3 separate regions of the Homo sapiens genome follow, and regions 1 and 3 are each reported to be linked to region 2. The links are microRNA targets in miRTarBase. Many come from high-throughput screens and were not tested one by one. Region 2 holds a microRNA gene; each other region holds the end of a gene's coding sequence.

Region 1 (5,066 bases), not on the chromosome of region 2:
CTACAGGGTTATCTCTCTTATTTCCTTCAGGGCTTGGCTTAGAAGCCCCCTTCTCAATAAAGCCTTCCCTAGCCACTGTGTATGAAATGTTAAGCCCCTCTTCCACAACATTTTATACTACTCTTTCCTGCTTTATTTTTGTTTTCTCCTTTAGCACTTATTACCTTCCAACATACCATATATTTTACTTATTTATTTTCCTTGTTGTCTGCATATCTCTATTACTAAAGTAAGGTCCAGGAAGGCAGATTTTGGGCCTTTTGTTCACCACTGTATCCCCAATACCTAGGTCAGTGCTCATTCTTAGTAGACCCTTAATACATATTTGTTGAATAAATGATTTCTTTGTTTTATTTGCCTTAAATACAATGTATGAATGCTTTCCACTACTAAAAGTAATTATTAGTTGACATTGATGATTGATTTTTAAAAAATTTTGTTTTTGATAGGACCATCAAAGAACTGCAGGGCCAGCTGGAGTATGAACGACTACGTAGAGAAAAATTAGAATGTCAGCTTGATGAATATCGAGCAGAAGTTGATCAACTCAGGGAAACACTGGAAAAAATTCAAGTCCCAAACTTTGTGGCTATGGTTGGTGTCCTTTTTAATACATTTATTTTTCTCAAGAAGTATATACAAGAGTGGCCAAGAGTACAAGCTTTGGGCTGGGGCTCTTTGGACTTGAATCCTGGCTATAGTCTTTTTTGATTTGGGCTACTCATTTAACCTTTTTGTGCCTCAACTATAAACTGGAGATGATAACTTATACTTTCTAGAGCTGATGACAGGATTAAAGGAATACACACACACACACACACACACACACACACACACACACACTCTATATGTAACTATAACTTTCTAGATACATACACACATCTGTCTATCTATCTTCAAACAGCAGCCTAGTTCATAAGTATTATTGTTAACATTGTACCATAGAAGGAGAAAATGTTTTCATAAGTAATCAATCAGAATTCTAAGACAGCTAGAGGATATGTATATTTTAATATTCTAAATAACCAAAATAAAGTGCTTTGAATGGAATCCATATTTTCTTTCCATAGGGAAGTTTCTTCATCAATCATCATGGATGAATTAATTCTGTTTGAGGCTTGTGTCACCTCAAATCTGATCTATTAATATTATAGAATCTTCCTGGCTTCTTTTTATTTTGCACAAACTAGTCATTGGTCTCTTTAATAACCACTTTAAAAATATTAAAATAATAAAACATGTTTGTTGTATAGTGTTAAAAACAAGATAGATGTTCCTTCTGACACTAAGTTCCACTCTCCAGAGGAAGCTATTGTTAACAATTTAGTACATACCATATTAGACAAAATTCTATTTATCTGCAAACATGTATGTGTATTTCTATGCATATGCAAATATAACCACTTCCTCAGTTTCTCTGGGTTTTGGTGTCTCACCAGTGGTTGATTTTCCAAGAAATATAATTAACTATAATAATTAATCTATTCTCTTCATTTTGCAACCCTCTTCTTGTACGATCTTTAGCACATGGGGAAAATTTAGTATCAGAGAGGCCAGCTGTACAGTCATGTGTTGGTTAGAGGGCTAGAGGACACAGCACCATTTATAACTCACTGCTTCCAATCAAATCTGTTACCCCTCCACCTTGTGGCAGGGACTCTGTGACTCCCAGTCTCCTCAAAAGTAGAAAGGTAAGTTGTAAGTTGTTGTTCTTCGTTTTTTCTTTTTTTGGACAGGGTGTTGCTCTTGTCACCCATACTTCAATGCAGTGGTGCCATCATAGGGCACTGTAGCCTCGAACTCCCTAGGTTCAAGTGATCCTCTTGCCTCAGCCTCCCAAGTAGCTGGGACTGTAGGCATGCACCAACACACCTGGCCAATTAGTTTTTTTGTTTGTTTGTTTGTTTGTTTTGTAAGGACGGGATCTTGCTTTGTTGCCAAGGCTAAGTTGTTGTTCTTCAGCTGCCTAGGTGGGACAATCTTTTGGGGTGGTCACGCAAGCTGCACATTTTCTTTTGAGCCATTCCAAACTGTCTACTTTAGGAATGTTTCTGTCTTTTAGCTATTTAGAAATTCTCTTTGCTTACTCAGAAGCATCTGTTCTCAGGTTGGATCTGGTTTCATACTTCACAGTTTTGCTTCCCTAAAACTTCACTCTACCAACAATGTGTAGGCTTTCAGGAGAGCTGTCTCAAGGTCCCTGTGCTCAGAGTTCATTTTTTTTTGCATTCTTGCTTTAGGTTATACCTAATTTTTGTAAATAAGCAAATGTCACTGAGCTTTCATGGCAGCTGCAACTCTGGCACTGCTTATTTTCACTTGCAAAAGCTTGAATCTCAATTTCCTCATCTTTAAAATGAGGAATAATAATACCTACCTCATGGAATTGTATTGATGTTAAATGGAATATTGTGTAGAAATCCTGAATTTGGTTTCTAGCACGCAGAGGTATTCACTATATAGTAGTAGTCATTGTATTATTTACTCCCTTTCTTTTTTTCCATTTTCTATATTACAGATGAGTTGACATGGTCAGTGGATAAATAAATGTGTAGAGCCACATGCAGCTAAGGATAGGAAGAATTTATCTGGGAGTCTAATTATATGTAATGTATAAGTAAAATGAACTTTTCGTTCAGGATTATAAATACGGAATCCTCAAGAAGCTCTGACTAAGTCTTTCTCCTGCCACCTTCTGGTCAGGACCTATGATTGCATACTACTGTACCTTAAGATCCTCGGCCCCCAACATAATCTGCAATAGTATAATTTTTACTGAGAAAAAAAATTATTCGAATAGTTTCCTAGGATAGTTTGACATATATAAAGCACTTAAATGGTTTTTTGATAACAGCTGTTTTTATAGCACTTTCTCAGATATTATCTCATTTTAGTCTGCATCAACCCTATGAGGAGGTAGAATGATATATATATTTTTGATCCCATGTTATAAATGAGAGGGCAGAGGCTCAGAGAAGTTGAGAGTCTTGTTAGAGCATACAGCTAGTGTAAGGCAGGAGCAAACTCAGAATCTCTGTCTCCACATTATATTTTTCTAATACTTCTGTGGAAATGACTATCAAATCCATACTTAAGTACTGTGTCCCCACTAGGGATCCCCACCTGTATTTCCCACTGCTCGTCAACTGGACATTTCCACCCGAAATTCCTGGTGGTGCTTGAATTAAAAAAAAATGTCCAGAACCAAGCTCAATATCAAGACCAGATTCTCTCCCCTATCTCTGCATTTAAATTAATGGCATCACTATTTTCTCAACTACCCAGTCTTGGACTCTTAATGATTAGCCATGTTTTCTCCTTTAGATCATACAAAAAGCGAGTCCATCCTGTAGGTAGGAACATGTTCTCTACTTTCACTGCTTCCCTAGTTTAGGTTTCTATATCTTTCTATCTGAACTACTGTGATAGAATTTTGGTATTTACTCCTTCCCTATCCAAATCCATTTGACTCACAGTGGTCAGCTTGATTTTCTTGTCACTCCTTGGATTGAAAATCTTCCTTACCTGAATAAGTACTGATTCTTCAGTTTGACATTCAGCCTTAACCTACCTCACCAACTTTATTTTTGTCTGTTCTCCTATATATATATTAATAGCTTATTTTTTCTTAAGCTACCCTATGCTTTCCCATCATTAAGCCTTTGTTCAATTTGTCCATATACCTTGAAAACTGCCTGTTGACTCTGTAAAATCCCCTAGGAGCCATCTCATTTATCACCCCTTTCCTAGTCTCCCTGGTCACACGTGATCTCTCCTTCTATCAAGCACCTTGTACTGGTCTGAGGGCTTCTCGTCATCTGTATCACAGCATGATTGGGCACTTACTTTACCCGCAGTACTGAAAATCTAAGTTTTATAAGATCACTTAACTTATGTTAATAACATCATCTTAGTCATCATTAACAACAGGTTTTGAGTATGTTGGGCTTAGTGTTAAGACTTTATATTCAGCAGATACCATCTTCATTTTATAAATGAAGAAATCAACTCTCAGATAAAATAAACAATTTATAAAGTTACAAAGCTTGTTAGATGGCTAGCCATGATTTCAACCTGTCTAGCCCCAAGTCTATGCTTTTAACACCACTTGTTACTGCTATTATAAACCCCTCACATTCCCTCTTTCTGTGCTTTTAAGAACATTTATTTTGAAAATTTTTCTTTGAAAACTTTTGATGATAGCTTTTTAATTTTAGTAAATTAATTTAGTAAATTAATTTTAGGGTTAATTTACTTATGAAAACTTAAAAATTGGTAAGAATTTTGTTAAAATGTTACACTATAAGTTCAAACATATATTTCAAGATATGTCTTAAATTGGAAGTTGAGATGATAAAATATAACGTAGGATATCTTCATGACCTTGGGGTAGGAAAAAAATGTGTAGACTGGACTTCATTAAAATAAGACTTCAGTTCATCAAAGATTATATGAACAGACTTGAAAAGGCAAGCCAAAGTGTAGAAAAACATATTTCCTTTCTTTCTCTCTGCTTTTCTTTCTTCTCTCCTATCTGAAAAAGAAGTTGTATCTAGAATATATAAATCAACGTGAAAAAGACAGTCCAGTAAAAAAACTGGGCAAGACTTGTGTAGGCATTTCACAAAAGAAGATATCCAAGTGGCCAATAAACATGAAATTGTGCTCAAAATCACTGGTTATCAGAAATGTAAATTAAAACCCAAACAAGATACCAATATATACCCATCAGAATGGCAAAAATTGAAACAGACGTTACCAAATGCTGGTGAGGATGTGGAACAACTGGAGATTTTATACACCAGTGGTGGCAGTGTAAATTGGCTACCACTTTGGAAAATTAATTCCTAGTGGAATTAGTACATGTTTCTTTGTGTACACAGATGGACACCAAAAATATATAATGTTCTTGTCAGCATTATTACATATATCTCTCAAACTAGAATCATCTAAAAATTCCCTCAACAGTAAGAATCAATACATTTTGCTATATTCATACAATGGAATATTATATAGCAATGAAAATGTGTGAATTGCTACTCTACACATCACCACGAATGAATTTC
Region 2 (5,073 bases):
CCACTGTGCCTGGCTAATTTTTGTATTTTTAGTAGAGACGGGGTTTCACCATGTTGGCCAGGCTGGTCTTGAACTCCTTACCTCAGGTGATCCACCTTCCTCAGCCTCCCAAAGTGATGGGATTACAGGTGTGAGCCACTGCACCCAGCTCATTTCTTTTTCAATGAAGGATCTAATGACTGTCAGAGCAGTTGGGCCCACTGCCCTGACTCGTGCTAAAGCCTCAGCAGTTTATCCACCATTGTTTTTACACCTTCAGTGCAGGCATCAAAGAGCAAAGAAAAGGCAAATGATGTCTCAGCATTATTACAAAAATAGCTTTGGCCTTGTGACTCACCCCCCTAAAGGATCTTAGGAACCTCCAGAAGAGAGGTCCCTGGACCACACTTTGAAGACCACTCTTCGAAATCATTGGATCTAATATTCCACGGTAGAAATTGTGCCCATTTCCCCCTCCATTGTGAGCTGTGATTTCTCGCCATCTCTGTCTTAACCAGTTCTTCTCCACCTCCACCAGCATAGCCGGTGGTGCTCCCATCTCAGCCTGGTTTCCTCCTGTGTCTCCTCTGTCCCTCTCATTGAGACTGCACGTACTTGCTTATGCCCCATTCAGCACACCAAGCTGACTTGTTTCGAGTCTGTTTCTGATGGTAAGTCACATTCAGGAGGGTCTTTTATTCCTGAAGCTAACTTTAAATTGGAGCCACGTGCCGGGCTCTTGCCTGTTGAGGAGTGACTTCTGGTCAACCCAATTAGCAGAGTGCATGGAGTGCTCTGGCCCCATTCACTCCTCAGGATCGGAAGCTCCGGGTCTTGTTGATACGTCCTGGAGTGGCTGGCAGATGTCATTTGGTCTCCCCAAATGGAGTCTTCTCTGCCCTCCCTTCCTGGTCTCTGGCTATGAAGAAGGGAAGTTATGTTTTAAAGAATCTAAAGCACAGTACAGTTCTCCTTTCCCCTAATTTCAGCCTCTGAAATATATCAGCCTCCAGCTGCTGCCCCAGGACACTTCTGGGCTCTTATTTAAGAGGACTCCTCCAGCCTGGAATGCAGGGCAGTACACATGTCCTTGTCTTTCTTCCTGCTGTGCTGGCCCTCAGGGTACCGTTCTGCCTGGATACAGAAGAAGAGGTTCTCCCTGGGACAGAGGCTAACAAGCCCTGTCCAGCGAAGGGGTGGCCTCCAGGTTTTCTGGTTGGTGCAGAGCTGGCAAGGGTGGAAATGGAGGGAGTGAGGCCCTTCCCATCTGGCTCCAGGGACTTGTGCTCCTCTGTTTGGGACAAAGACTTTACCTTGTCAATGCAGCTTTATCTAAACTGTAGTCTGTGGATGGCGGTATCCCCCTAGATTCCTACAACTGCTTGACCCTTTTTCTCTTGGTTTTTGAAGCTATGACAAGAGCCTGATTTCGTGTCCATCTCAGTGAACATTTTTGTAAATAGTGGAGAGAGGAAAATCGTGAAGTTCAGCCAATTGCACTTGAAACCGGAGGTGGCCTCCCCCTGCCTGGTGGGACTCCTCCACTCTCTTCACCTTTGCTGCACTCTGGGTGTCCGCCTCCAAATCAGTGTGCTTCAGAGTTCTCAGAAGACAATGGCACCTAGTGTCCTTCTTGTTTTTGTCACTAAGAATGGATTAATTTTATCTCATCTGAAACTGAAAATATTACGTTTGGCAGACATTCTCTGAAATCTAGAACAAAAGAAATGTGTTCATTATCATCTAAGGATACACTTTCCAATCAGTTCAACTTGGCAGGTTCACCAGGAAGCTGTGTTATTTAAACTCGGATGGTCTAGGAGAACTGTAGACTTCCGGGTGCTAGATGATTCCTGCTCTGGAAACTCACCGAGCCATTTCAGCTGCGCTCTAGAGGAGCAAACCTGGGGCGTTAGCTCAACTCTTGCCCCCCTGCTGAAGGAGACCAAAACAATGCTTGATCAGGAAACACCATCTGGCTTTGCCCCCAGGATTCTGTGACTGCCCTGGGGAGGGCGCAGTGACCTGCCAACCAAAATTGGTACAATTGTAAACAGCCACAGAAATGCTTAAATGCAATATCATTTCTATGAAATTAACGTGTTTCCATTCCATTCCAGCCACCAAAATTGCCCGTTTGAGCTCAGCCCTCAAAACAAAGATGCCTGTGTGGCTTTGCCCAACGTTGGGTCACTGTTTTCTGCATAGGAGACAGTTACTGTGTGTGTGTATGTGTCTGTGTCTGTGTGTGTGTGTATGTACGTGTACACACTTAAAGCCTGTTGCAAAAACAAGATGCCCAATATATTTCTTGTTTCTGATATTTTCCCAAGGGCGTTGAAGGGCAAGATTAAGAAGGAAAGCTCCAAGAGGGAGCTGCTTTCCGACACTGCCCATCTGAACGAGACCCACTGCGCCCGCTGCCTGCAGCCCTACCAGCTGCTTGTGAATAGCAAAAGGCAGTGCCTGGAATGTGGCCTCTTCACCTGCAAAAGCTGTGGCCGCGTCCACCCGGAGGAGCAGGGCTGGATCTGTGACCCCTGCCATCTGGCCAGGTGAGCCCAGGCCTTGAGGTAAAATGACCTTGATAGTTTCTGGATCTGGCGTGTCCCTTCCATGGGGCTAGCTGAAGAAGGGTGGACGCACACATGCACACACTCGTGTGTGTGTGTGTGTGTGTGTGTGAGATTTATGCAGGCCTGTGTACAGCACTCAGGCAGTGCCATGAGCCTGTGCTTGTCCCTGCAGAGTCGTGAAGATCGGCTCACTGGAGTGGTACTATGAGCATGTGAAAGCCCGCTTCAAGAGGTTCGGAAGTGCCAAGGTCATCCGGTCCCTCCACGGGCGGCTGCAGGGTGGAGGTAAGGAGTGGAGAGTAAGAACGGCTTTTTGTTCCCAGGCATTTTAGGAATATTAAAGCAGGTTCCTTTGGAGTGTGCATGTGTGTGTGTACGTGTGTGTGTGCATGTGTGTGTGCACATGTGTGTGCATGCACATGCCTCTCTGTGAATTCCTGCTTCTGGCTGCTTTTTTTTTTTTTTTTTAATTTTTGTAGAGACAGGCATCTCACCATGTTTCCCAGACTGGCCTCGAACTCCTGGGCTCAAGCAATCCACCCACCTCAGCCTCCCGAAGTGCTGGGGTTATAAGTGTGAGCCACTGTGCCCTGTGAAATTGGCTCCTTTTTATGTGAGGTGCAAACCTCTGCATCCCACTGGCCTGGTCTGAGCACCTCAGAAGTCCTGGGTGCTGCTGAAGTTGCCAATATTTGAAATTATATTGTTTTCAAATCTTCAAAGTAAGTTGAGAACTCAAAGCCAAGTTTCTGAAACCCAGCTGCTGATTGAATCACCAGGGTGCTTGTTAATACTACATGTTTTCCAAGCCCTTCTTCCCTGGGACATCTGGTTTGGGGCCTAGGCTCTCTCTTTTCAACAAACATTTCACATGAATCTGGTGATTATCAAGATTTAGAGAAATCTGTTGTAATTCAGTTGTTTTCATCTTTTGAATCCAAGTATTTATTTCATGATGAATTTGAAATCCAGGCAGTAGGCTTAAACTAAACAATGTGTTCGCCTGTAAGATCCCCCATAAGGCATTTGGAAGAGATCTTTTCAGGGAGAGGGTGGGAGGATGCCGGGGGGTCTTTTGCATTTGAGTTTGAAGGGAGCTAACCCATCAGTGTTTTTGAGAAAGCTCACCTTGTCCCTGTTACCTGGAGTCCAAGGCTTCTGCCACTAAGCCCGGCCAAGCATTCGGGTGGGACAGCCGCCACCAAGCCAGGTGTCTGGGGTCTCAGTGTCCTGGATGACTCCATCTGCAAGACCAAGGCGAGTTTCTCCAGGGCCACGAGGCAGCGCCTGGCTCCGGCAGCTGGGCACGTCCAGGGCAGAGGCTGTGCTTCTGGATTGGGGCGTCCTCACCATGCCCCAGCCCAGGCGTCTCCCCCAGGCCTTCCTTCTGGAGAGACACCTTATTCGTGCCTGTCTCTTAAAGCCTCAAGTTTGATTGAAGAAGCAGAAGTTGGCATAGACACCTTTGAGCATTCAAGCTCTCGCCGGGCCTGCTGCAGGCATTTCAAGGCATCTTAGCCCATCGTTTAATTTAGGACAGAGGCCACGGAGAGGCACCGCTGGAGCAGTACACCGCACACCACAGGGTGGCTGCACTTTTTGGGTGGTGGGGTGGGGATGGGGGCAGGTATGATCAATCATCCAAACCAGGGCATTTTTAAGAGTAAAAGGAGGCTCTACTGATAACATGCTGCAACAACAGATGTGACTAGGAACGGCCGGTGACATGGGGAGGGCCTATCACCCTATTCTTGGGGGCTGCTTCTTCACAGTGATCATGAAGCCTAGCAGCAAATCCCACCTCCCCACACGCACACGGCCAGCCTGGAGCCCACAGAAGGGTCCTCCTGCAGCCAGTGGAGCTTGGTCCAGCCTCCAGTCCACCCCTAACAGGCTTAAGGATAGAAACGACACATAACACCGGGAAAAGCCATGCTGTCAAGCATCTCAGAATCTCAACCCCAGAGGCAGTCTTTAGGGACTGGGGTGGGCTCAGGAAGCTGTATTATTTCAAAGGACGCAGTGTTTCCACAGCTCAGCCCAGAGCTGCTGGAGTTCACACGGCCCACCAGAACCTGCTGACTTCAAAATCATCACCACCAAGGGGCCAGGAGGTGGCGCTGTGGGGCAACAGAAAACAGAAAACAGCTGCTCCTTGAACTTGGATTCCCAGCAGCTCCCCCAAGCGCCCACAGGGGCTGCATTCCTCCCTGCTGGACACCTGTAACTACAACATTAAAACAGGGCGCAAGCAAGGAACACAAACACTGGGAAAGCTGTGCCTTTAAAAAAAAAAAAAAAAAGGAGGGTAAAAAAGCTTAAGGTTAATGTTTTGAAACCTGACCCAGCCAGGGCCTAATGCAGACCTTGTCCAGCTAGTAAGTGGGCCTCTGGGGGTCTTCATTGAGTGAACCTTCAGAGTGCTGGTGTTTCACCAAGGCCTTCCATAGAGGACGCGGCAGGCTCTGCAGGAAGCAGCTTCGATGGCCGATGGCCAAGAAAGGAAGGGAAAACCCCT
Region 3 (5,066 bases), not on the chromosome of region 2:
CCGAAGGCAAGATTACAGGGGAAGCGTTCGTGCAGTTTGCCTCGCAGGAGTTAGCTGAGAAGGCTCTAGGGAAACACAAGGAGAGGATAGGGCACAGGTACATTGAGGTGTTTAAGAGCAGCCAGGAGGAAGTTAGGTCATACTCAGATCCCCCTCTGAAGTTCATGTCCGTGCAGCGGCCAGGGCCCTATGACCGGCCCGGGACTGCCAGGAGGTACATTGGCATCGTGAAGCAGGCAGGCCTGGAAAGGATGAGGCCTGGTGCCTACAGCACAGGCTACGGGGGCTACGAGGAGTACAGTGGCCTCAGTGATGGCTACGGCTTCACCACCGACCTGTTCGGGAGAGACCTCAGCTACTGTCTCTCCGGAATGTATGACCACAGATACGGCGACAGTGAGTTCACAGTGCAGAGCACCACAGGCCACTGTGTCCACATGAGGGGCCTGCCGTACAAAGCGACCGAGAACGACATTTACAACTTCTTCTCTCCTCTCAACCCTGTGAGAGTCCATATTGAGATTGGCCCAGATGGAAGAGTGACGGGTGAAGCAGATGTTGAGTTTGCTACTCATGAAGAAGCTGTGGCAGCTATGTCCAAAGACAGGGCCAATATGCAGCACAGATATATAGAACTCTTCTTGAATTCAACAACAGGGGCCAGCAATGGGGCGTATAGCAGCCAGGTGATGCAAGGCATGGGGGTGTCTGCTGCCCAGGCCACTTACAGTGGCCTGGAGAGCCAGTCAGTGAGTGGCTGTTACGGGGCCGGCTACAGTGGGCAGAACAGCATGGGTGGCTATGACTAGTTTTGTTAGGAACATTTGAGTTACTTCAATCATTTTCACAGGCAGCCAACAAGCAATTAAGAGCAGTTATAATAGAGGAAGCTGGGGGACCCATTTTGCACCATGAGTTTGTGAAAAATCTGGATTAAAAAATTACCTCTTCAGTGTTTTCTCATGCAAAATTTTCTTCTAGCATGTGATAATGAGTAAACTAAAACTATTTTCAGCTTTTCTCAATTAACATTTTGGTAGTATACTTCAGAGTGATGTTATCTAAGTTTAAGTAGTTTAAGTATGTTAAATGTGGATCTTTTACACCACATCACAGTGAACACACTGGGGAGACGTGCTTTTTTGGAAAACTCAAAGGTGCTAGCTCCCTGATTCAAAGAAATATTTCTCATGTTTGTTCATTCTAGTTTATATTTTCATTTAAAATCCTTTAGGTTAAGTTTAAGCTTTTTAAAAGTTAGTTTTGAGAATTGAGACACAATACTAATACTGTAGGAATTGGTGAGGCCTTGACTTAAAACTTTCTTTGTACTGTGATTTCCTTTTGGGTGTATTTTGCTAAGTGAAACTTGTTAAATTTTTTGTTAACTAAATTTTTTTCTTAAAATAAAGACTTTTTCACAATGACTGGCACAGATTACTCAGCAAAAGATAGCAAAACGGGTGGTTGAAGATAATTCATTTTAATCGTAATGTATTTTAGTGTGAATTTAAAAATTTCATACATCAAATCTATGATCTCCCTTATATTCTTATGATGAGGCTAAATAAAAGTCTAATAAAAATGTTAAATATGTGAATGGTGGAAATGGTGACTAGCAGCACACATTCTGGGAAGCATCAAATAGACACACGGCCCCAGCCACCTGCAACTTATGTGCACTGTTGTAAACCATTCAGAATTTTCCTGCTAGGCCCTTGATGCTGGAGTCACATCTGTTGATAGCTGGAGAACTTTAGTTTCAAGTACTACATTGTGAAAGCAATTATTTTGTTTCTAGTTTTTATAAAATGCTGATTTAAACTTTTTTTTTTGGTCACGCTCCTGATTTCTGTAGGGCGCATTTGTTAATTAGGTTATGACAGGATACACATTATCAAGCTTGAGACCCATTTTCAAATTGCTATCTACCTTGGCAACAGCAATGTTGAAATTCAGGCAGCTCTATATATAGCATACAGTATTACTATCATTTTAAACCTTATGCTAAATACAAACCATCAGGACTTTAAAATGTGGAGTTTATTTAAAACCATTCTGTGCAAAAATGCTATCTACCATTGGGAATTCTTCAACTTTATTTTCCCACTTCACTAGCTGTATAATGTAACCTATATGTTATGATTTTACCAATATTAAGGGTCTTCATTAGTATCTTAAAGAGTAAATAAATGCTCTTGGTAAAACCCCTGAGAGCTGCATTAAAAATTAGGTCTGTGAAGTCTTCAGCCTTTTCTAGCCTCATTGGGCTTCAGAGGCTCACCTTAGGTACAGCCCTTCGTTCCAGTGTTCTGCATGCTTATGTTCTGCATGCTTGGATGGCCTGATGTGAGGGCAGCAGCATCACCAGGAATGGCAGGGTACAGGGACGCAGAAAGAGGCACTCGGAAGACTGGCATGGGGGAAACCTAGGGAGAACTGTCCTTGCTGTAACCCTGATCTGGGATCTCTGCCCACCCATGGGCCTACCATGCTTCAAGTGTCAGCACTGCATGGGGAAGGAGAGGCCTGTAGGTGAGGGAGACCCACAGAAACAGGTGGAGTTTCCGCTGGAAATGGGGCTGGAATGCCATGAAGATGAGACCTCAGATTTCGTAGAGTGGTGGAGATTCAAAGAGTACCTTCACAACCCTGGAAGTCTATGCTAGATTTAGGATGCATGGGTGGAAAGGGCTCCAGGGGATGGGAAAGGGAATGTGTTAGATGACCTGACATCCCAAGGTAACAACATAACATGGACAGCAAAACATCCCCTTGCTCCAGGATTGTTAACTTTTGTTGGGGAGGGACAAGTCTCTCTCTGATGCCCAGGCTGGAGTCTAGTGGCATGATATTGGCTCACTGCAGTGTCAGCCTCCCGTGCTCAAGTTATCCTCCCACCTCAGCCTCTCAAGTAGCTGGGACTGGAGGCGCACACCGCTATGCCCGGCTGATTTCTGTATTTTTTGTAGAGATGGGGTCTCACTATGTTGCCCAGACTGGTCTTGAACTCCTCAGCTCAAGTGATCTGTATTCTTCAGCCTCCCAAAGTTCTAAGATTTCAGGCATGCACCATGGCACCCAGCCATGCCCATTTGTTGCTACACACAGCCGTGCCCATTTGTTAATACTGTCCATGGCTGCCCAGGTACTACAGCAGGCAGAGAGATGGGTAGTTGTATCAGAGACCACATGGCCCACAAAACCTAAAATATTTACTGACACTACAGGAAATGTTTTTCAACCTGTGGCCTTGGGCATGACTAGGGCATTCCCTGCAAGGTAAAAGTCAAGATACTGCATCTTGTTATGTTGTAGAACCCCAAATTCAGGCTTGCGTACCTGATGTGTAGCTGATGCCAAACACCAAGACAAAGGTGCTTGGAGATAAAGGTTTATTTGATTTGGCCAAGGTGAGAAATCTGCCTTAACAAAAAGAAGCAGCGTGGAGTTTTTTTGTTTGTTTTGTTTTTTTAGAGATGGGGGTCTCCCTATATCACCCAGGCTGGAGTGCAGTGACTTTGAGAGAGTCTCAAAGTGCTGGGGTTATAAGCGTGAGCCACCGCGCACAGCCTCAGCATGGAAGTTTTGACCTCCGTTTTCAACCTGGGCCAGTTCACCCCTCCTTAGGCAACGTGGTGGTCCTCCACTCCTGGGAGGTCATAGCGAGGCCGAACTTGCTGCAGATACCCAATCGACATAGTACACTACAGCCTCGGCCTTCCAAAGTGCTGGGATTATAGGCATAAGCCACCATGCCAGGCATGGGGAGTTTTTACACAGCTAGAGACTAAGGGAGGGGCAGTTTCAGAGAACCGAGGGGGGAAAAGTCTGTGTTTCTTTAGTCTCACATAGTGTCTTGAATAACCAGACTTCTGGGTGTCTGCAGCTGGTCGCAGTGTGTTTAAAGACATTCATTACTTCTGCAAAATTTTTTTATGGCCCTGAAGTTATCCCCTCCTTCACAAGGAACAGTATTTCAGCAGTTCATAATTTCATTATGGGAACAAGGAATACTGGGCAAAAAGCGAGTGGTTAATGTGTAAGCAAGTAAGGGCCTGATAAGAATTTTCATCCCTTGAGTCACTAAAAATGCCGGGTGTTGAAAGAGGCATAATTTTGGGTAGTAGTTTTTGGATTTTGGAGAAAGCTGCTTTGACCCTTGAAAATACCCTGAGGCCTGGCGCAGTGGCTCACACCTGTAATGCCAGCACTTTGGGAGGCTGAGGCAGGTGGACTGCTTGAGCTGAGGAGTTGTTTTTTTTTGTTTTTTTTTAAAGACGGAGTCTCACTCACCCAGGCTAGAGTGCGGTGGTGCGATCTCGGCTCATTGCAACCTCCACCTCCCCAGTTCAAGCGATTCTGCCTCAGCTTCCTGAGTAGCTGGGATTACAGGTGGGTGTCACCACGCCCAGATAATTTTTGTATTTTTAGTAGAGATGGGGTTTTACCATGTTGGCCAGGGTGGTCTTGAACTCTGGACCTCAGGTGATCCACCCACCTCGGCCTCCCAAAGTGCTGGGATTACAGGTGTGAGCCAGTGTGCCCGGCCAAGCTGAGGAGTTTGAGCAGCTTGGGCAACATGGCAAGACACTCGACTCTACAAAAAATACAAAAATTACTCGGGCATGGTGGCTCACACCTGTAGGCCAGCTACTTGGGAGGCTGAGGTGGGAGGATCGCTTGAGCCCAGGTGGCGGAGGTTGCAGTGAGCCAAGATTGCACCACTGCACCTCAGCCTGGATGACAGTGAGACCCTGTCTCAAAAAAAAAAAGGAAATACTACTCCTGCTAATTATCAGGTGACCAGAAGGATGCAAGGACTCCACCAGCTCCTCTGCCATCTGCTACAAATGACAGCATAGGCCCCATCAAAGAGGTACCTGTGTTCCTAAATGATTTCATGTGGCACCTCTGATAAGTCTCAGTAAACACTCAGGCCAAACCCTGAAACTCTGAGTGTTCTGAATCAAGGCCACGTTTTCTGCAGGAGAGGGCTAGTTACCTTTCTTTTCTTTTTCTTTCTTTTTTTTTTTTTGAGACGGAGTCTCGTTCTGTTGCCCAGG

What was found. Region 2 holds the annotated microRNA hsa-miR-6811-3p (AGCCUGUGCUUGUCCCUGCAG, at 2,707-2,727, shown strand). A microRNA usually pairs through its seed, bases 2 to 8, with sites in the 3' UTR of a target mRNA and lowers its output. Matches are read on the target gene's strand: a 7mer-m8 pairs with bases 2 to 8, a 7mer-A1 pairs with bases 2 to 7 and ends in A, and an 8mer does both.
Region 1: miRTarBase lists ANKRD42 as a target of hsa-miR-6811-3p. The part of its 3' UTR that is shown has no 7-base or 8-base seed match.
Region 3: the mRNA of HNRNPF is a reported target of hsa-miR-6811-3p. Seed matches in the 3' UTR shown: 8mer at 846-853.

Annotation. Positions count from the first base shown.
Region 1 is chr11:83,247,494-83,252,559 of GRCh38, forward strand. ANKRD42 (ankyrin repeat domain 42) reads left to right here. Exons shown (of 11, transcript NM_001300975.2): 11 at 450-1,478. The coding sequence ends at 711. Among named protein-coding and RNA genes, the nearest start is that of CCDC90B-AS1, 36 kb to the right of the region's middle.
Region 2 is chr2:237,508,262-237,513,334 of GRCh38, forward strand. MIR6811 (microRNA 6811) reads left to right here and starts at 2,670; the gene lies at 2,670-2,727. It overlaps MLPH (melanophilin), which reads left to right. Exons shown (of 16, transcript NM_024101.7): 3 at 2,313-2,534; 4 at 2,728-2,840. RefSeq lists enhancers at 2,140-2,640, 2,641-3,141, 4,522-5,022, 5,023-5,073.
Region 3 is chr10:43,382,380-43,387,445 of GRCh38, reverse strand. It overlaps HNRNPF (heterogeneous nuclear ribonucleoprotein F), which reads left to right. Exons shown (of 4, transcript NM_001098204.2): 4 at 1-1,828. The coding sequence ends at 809. Among named protein-coding and RNA genes, the nearest start is that of FXYD4, 13 kb to the right of the region's middle. RefSeq lists enhancers at 1-217, 218-719, 2,457-2,536, 2,587-2,666, 2,687-2,836.